Linked DNA regions of Homo sapiens: region 2 is linked to region 1. The links come from fine-mapping of genetic effects on gene expression. A gene starts in region 1. The other region holds a variant in brackets. All regions are shown on one strand. Distances are from middle to middle. Region 1 holds the start of ZNF467 (zinc finger protein 467). Region 2 has its middle 20 kb from the start of ZNF467.

Region 1 (2,896 bases):
CATTCCACCTAGGGGAGGAAGGGGGCTGCTGTTAACCAGAGCTGGGCCGGGCTCTCCTTCTCCTGGGTTCACCATTGGTCCCAGGGCCAAAAAAGGGCCCAGAGTGAGTCTCTCAGGGGGTCACGGATGACTGGGATCAACTCCTGCTCTGGAGTCCTCAGAAAGAGCCACACGCACACCCAGACACCCCCCTTTCCTGTTTTACACACATGCACACTCTCACTGTAAGTCTCACAACACCGGCACAGGTGCTCGGCCACACCCCAGCACGCACAGTGACACATGCTACTCCAGGTGCTCCCTTCATCCTGGAGGCAGAGGAGCCTTCACAGCTGAGCCCGAGTGATGGGCGCTCTTCCAGGCACTCATCCTTGTGGTGGGCTGTGGTAGCAGGAGCTCAAGGGCCATTCACACCCTCCCCTTCCCAGCCTCACTCAGCTCTGGATTCAAACCGGGGCTGATCAGGCAGCACTGGGATTGGGAAGAGACCCGAGTTGCAGTCACCCTTTCCCGTAAAGGGGCAGAAGGGAGGAAGCTGGAACCCAGGGGTTTGGAGAAAGTTCATGGAGAGGAGACCGGGAACTAACAGTCCAGACTTCAGCATCTCCGGAGCTTTCAGGAGTGGGCGCAGCGGGAACAAGGCCAAGGAGAAACCTCGTAACCTGGGCAGGGAGGGCGAGTGGAGTCCCCTGAGGAGCTGGGGCTGAGGGCTGAGGGCTGAGGGCTGCCCTCCACATCTAACTCCAGGTGGTGTCCGGGCCAGCAGGCCCCCCAGCAATCGTCTCCCGCCCATAGAGCCCTCCCCTCTCTGCAGCCCCCTCCCAGACCCTCCCCCGGACCCCGCCCTCAGAATCTCCGCCCAGCCCCGTCCCAGCCTTGCCCCCTGGAGCTCCCGACCTGGCCCGGCCTTCTCCCAGGGGACCTGGCTTAAAGTCCTCTCCCCAGTTTCTACTTCGAAGGACCCGTTCTCGCAAGCACAGGGGCCCAGCCCTCTCTCCCGCCTGCCCCCACGGCTCCCGCGGCTGGTTTCGAATCGGGTCCTCGGGACTCCAGGCGAGGGGCTGCGGGTCTGGGTGGATCGGGGTGGAATCCGGGTGGAGAATGGGGGCGGGGCCGGAGTTTCCCAGACCGACCCCCCGGGCCGTCCTCCCGCGGGAGCGCGGCGCTGCACACCCGGCTGGCACCGGCGACTTAGAGACGGCAGCGCACGACTCGCTGGCTCCCCCCCGACACGGCCCCTCCTCGTTCCCCCAACTCCTCCCCGCCACCCCCCCACCCGTTCGCGCTCCACCTTTCCCCGGCTCCTCCCTCCGCGGCCGCGAGCACCCTCCCTTGGCACCCTTCCCCGCAGCCCGAGTGCCTGTCCTCCCCAGCCTCCTCGCCCTCCTCCACCCCCTCTCCCATCACCCTCCCCTCCCCTCCCCTCCCCTCCCCCGTCCTGAGCTCCCACTTCCACACCTACTCCAGGCTCGGAGCCTTAGGACCATCACCTGCCCACCTAAGCCCACGGTGCTCCCTCCTGGGACCCCACTCCTGAAACCCCCTGCCCCTGCCTCCCCCAGCCCGGTGCGCCGGGGCTCTCCGCCCGCTCCCTCGGTCCCTCCTCCCTTGCAGGCGCCGTTTCCCGGCTTCGACTCCCCGCGCGTCTATCCCTCTCCTCCCCGCGAAGTTTCGGGGCTGTCAGTCTGTCAGTCTTTCAGGCCGTCAGCACCCGAGCTGCAGGCGGCGAGCGCCATTGTGAGCAGAGCCGGCGGGGCAGGAGGCCCGGGCGCCTGGGTCCCCGCGGCGCGGGCGGAGCGGCCGGCCAGCCAGGTAAGGGCCGGGGAGGCTCCTCTGCAGGCGGCCCCGCCCGCGTCTCCCTCAGCGCCGCGGTTGGGTCACGGCCGGCTCCGCGCAGGTGACAGCCCCGGGGGTAGGGGCGCGGACGGCGGGCGTGGGGGAGGGGCGCGGGTCCGGGGAGGTCGGGGGCTGGGGGGAAGGGAGGGCAAGGCCGGCGCGGGCAGGGTGAGGGCTGTGGGGGTAGAGGAGACCGGGGGGGCTGGAGGGAAGGGCGGGGGCTGGGAGGGGGTCGGGCGGGAGGCAGGTGGGAAGGGGGACGACGGGCCCCGAGGGGAGGAGAGAGGGAGTGTGGGAGGGGGCCGAGGGGGAAGGGGAGGAAGAAGCGGGCGCTGGGGACCGGGCCACTCGGTAGGGGCGGGAGAGGAGGGCGCTGACAGGTGAGCCCCGGAGCTGGGGAGGGGGCCGGGACCTGGAATGAAGTCGGCGATCGGAGCTGCTTGGGAGGGCGGCGGGGCAGGGAGGTGGAGCTGAGGGTCCCGTCGGGAGGAAAACTTGGGAGGGGTGAGAAGTCCGAGGGGAGCAGAAATAGGGAGGGGGCGCCGCGGCGGAGAAGAGAGGCGCGGAGGGGTGTTCGGAGGGGAGACGGAGTGGGGAGGGCAGGGCCCGCGGGAAGGTCCCGAGAGAGCGGGTCAGCCCTAGACCCCCAGGCTTGGGGGCCGGAGGACCCGGGAGCTGGGAAGCAGCCTGGGAGGGGGGAGGGGAAGAGCGGTTCTGGGGACTGGGGACGGGGAGGGAAGCGAAGCTGGAGCCTGCTGGGGAGACAGAGGGGGAAGGGAGGCGGGGGCCTCGGAGGGGAAGGAGAGCTGCAGAAGGGAGGGGGGAGGGGGAGGGCGGTGGGGAGACGTGGGGGAGGGCTGGAAAGGGGGAGGGGAAGGGAACCGAGGTGAGGCGAGGAAAGGAGAAGGAAGGGAAACCGGGGTGGGGGAGGAGAGGAGGGAGGGGAGAGGAGAACTGGGTTGGGGAAAAGAGCTGAGAGGAGGAGGGCGGGGGTTGGCGAGGAAGGAAAAGAGGAGGGGGAAAGGAAGGGAGAGGGTGTGCAGCCGGGGAGGGAGATGGA
Region 2 (2,896 bases), 20 kb after region 1:
AGCCCGGGTGACAGAGCAAGAACTTGTCTGAAAAAAAAAAAAAAAAAGATAAAACATAAACAGTTTTGCTTTGTGTTACTTTATTCTTCGTGTGATTTTTAAATTTAAATTTTTCCTAGTCCTATAACAGTAAAATAGCTTTGATAGGACAGTAAACAGTTGACTTTTAGGAGACACTAAGAGCAACTGGGAACTCAGCCTTTTTCCATCAAACATGACTGTTTTGTTTGGTGTTTCTGTAAACTGTGTTTATGTGTCGGGGGTGGTGGTGTGCACACCAGGATTTACTTGTAGAGAGACATAGATGAAGGAAGGAGACAGCCTCCCGAGGAAGATGTTGCCTATGCTGGGGAGAGGGCTTGAAGGGGAGCCGGGGTGGGGGTTGGCGAGGTGGGTTGAGGGTGGGAGGGCTTCTGCTAGTATGTTCAGGGAGACAGATGGGCCGACTGAAGGCAGACAGGTTGGTGAGTGCGTTCACGGGACATGCTGGTTTCCAGTAGTGAAAGATTCTTTCTGCTCCTGGGACTCAAGAACCTGCTCGTAGTTGTTAACTCCAGGGTCCTGGGGAGGCCACCCATGCCCCACAGGGAAGAAAACTTCTTCACTCACTTACTGATCCTTGAAATGTCTTTTAACCAGAGACAAGTCTTGTATTTCACAGTCAGAGGGAGTATGCAAGACCCCCAGAAGAGGGCGCACGGCCACAATTCCACGCTGGTGGAAGGACTGGAATCCTGTCCTTCCCTGGGAACCCTCACCTGGGGAAGGATGAGTGAGTGTCACACTGAGGCCTCCCACAGTGGAGAAGCAGCAACGGAGAAGGAGGCCCCAGGAACCCTAAAGACAGAGACTTTAAGGTCGGGAGGGTTTCACAGAGGCTTTAGGAAACAGATTTATCCAACTGCCACAAAGGACTGAGCCTTCAGGCGTGGGATTAGGTCAGCCTTGGGGCAGGGGACATTCTTGGTCAATAGCAGGACTTTGATTTACGTAACGGGCTTATGCAATGTCATTACATAACATCATTAGGGGCATCGCAAATCGGATTCTATTTCAGGCTCTACAGGAGCCAGACCCAGGGCTCCCCTCCGGCCCAGCAAGACAGGATTCCCGTGGGCCCAGTGTCCCTGTCCTCGCTGGGATTTTCTCTCTTGAGATTTCACTGTGGGGCTTCCAGGAGAACTCCT[A/G]AGGCCTCAGGATCCTCTTTCTCCAGAATGATGGAGCTCGCGTCATAGCACGCTCATCCTTTGCAGATGCCTGCCCTGCTGCCCCTGCTGCCCCTGACCCTCCCAGTACTGTCCCCCCAAGCCCAGGCCAGTGGGCAACCTTCTCCTATCAGGTCCCCCTCTGACTTCTCCCCAACTCCTGCTTCCCCATCTATCCTCCAACTGTCAGGCTGATCTTCCTTATAACTTATTACGCCCCAGCTTAGAAACTTCTGCTCATCTGAATATCCAGAGGCCTTAGCGGTTGACACATTGTGCCACATTATTCTGTGTGTCCCTCTGGGGGTGGCAAGCTTCCCTGGCACAGAGCAGAGTGCCCACCTAGCCAGTGTGCAATACATGTCTGTTCTAACTCAAGGCTCTCTACAGTTGGCCCCAACAAACTTTTGAAACTTATTTTCCAAACCTCCTGGGTACACACCCTCCCTTACACCAAGCGGTCTTGTTCCTGTCTCCGGGCCGTGTGGTCCTTCCTGCCTCCTGCCCCGGCCTCCCTGGGCTTCCCCATCACAAAGTGCCTACTGCCCTGACTTCCCTTTTAAATCCTACCTATTTTTCGAGCACAGATGGGGGCCACCTCCTGGGGGTGTCCTTCCCCAATGATCCCAGCACACAACAATCTCCTCCTTTAAGCTGTCATGGTTCCTCTGCTTCCCACCTTACCAGATGTCGCCTGCAGTTGTTGGGTGTGTCCGCGTGTGCCTAAAATGTGTGAGTGCCTCCTGTGACTGAGGCTCCTACTTAATTCCCCTAAGCCCCCTTTGGTACGGGGTTGCTGTCCTCACTTCTCAGGTAAGGAAACCGGGGTTTAGAAAGGTTACACCCTTGTAGGAGCCTCATCTCTCCAGGCCCACTGGGAACATCTCGAGGGCGGAAGTCGTGTTTTTTTGTCTTGGTATTTCCAGGACCTGGCACATTTGAACACTCACAACACGTATGTTGAATTGTACAGGTGGAAGAGGAGCCTTTACAAGGCCTACCCATCTCAAAATCCCTCCCCTACCGGATAATCTGAGTGCCTAAAATCCACCCCTGCAGAGTTATAGCTGTGAACTAAGACAGGGTGACAGCAAACACAAATCCCAAAGTTAATAAATTCAGCGATCTATTTTTTCATGTGGCTGCTGAGATGGTTAAAGCTAAACTTACTGCTCAAATGCAATTATGTGAGTTAGATATCTGGTATGTTTCACATACTCTGCATGTCCCATTTAAAGCCTCACTGTAATATACCACCTTCGTTGGCCGTTACTGCAAAGTATATGTATTAGATGAGAAGAGAGCTACCTGAACTAAGAAGAGAGCTGAGAACCACACTCAGGAAAGCAGACAGAAAGGGGAAAGCAGGAATGTCAGTGTTGGAGAGGCCTGAGAATTTTCTAGGCTGTCGGTTCCTAACCTTTAGCAAACCACCAAGCATTTAGTTGTTTAAAGCTCCCTTCAGAGTAATGTGCATAGAAACAATGATTTGCACGTAATTTTAGAGGGTATGTGGACACCCTCTTTAAGCCCCTCTGTGGGCCCACATGGTCCGCAGAGCTGGTTTAAGAACCTCTGCTCTCATCCTGCATGACAGAACGGAGGCCTGGAGGAGAGAGGTTCTGCTGGGGCCTGAAGGGTGGGAGGGAGGGAAAGAGGAAATCCATGATTTTGCAGGGCAGGCCCTGCTG

What was found.
Region 2: its variant is fine-mapped to the expression of ZNF467 in whole blood (INTERVAL, PIP above 0.99).

Annotation. Positions count from the first base shown.
Region 1 is chr7:149,772,024-149,774,919 of GRCh38, reverse strand. It overlaps ZNF467 (zinc finger protein 467), which reads left to right and starts at 1,332. Exons shown (of 5, transcript NM_207336.3): 1 at 1,332-1,812. RefSeq lists silencers at 1,710-1,889, 2,826-2,896.
Region 2 is chr7:149,751,642-149,754,537 of GRCh38, reverse strand. No RefSeq gene overlaps it. Among named protein-coding and RNA genes, the nearest start is that of ZNF467, 20 kb to the left of the region's middle. The variant A/G (reference allele first, on the strand shown) is at 1,188.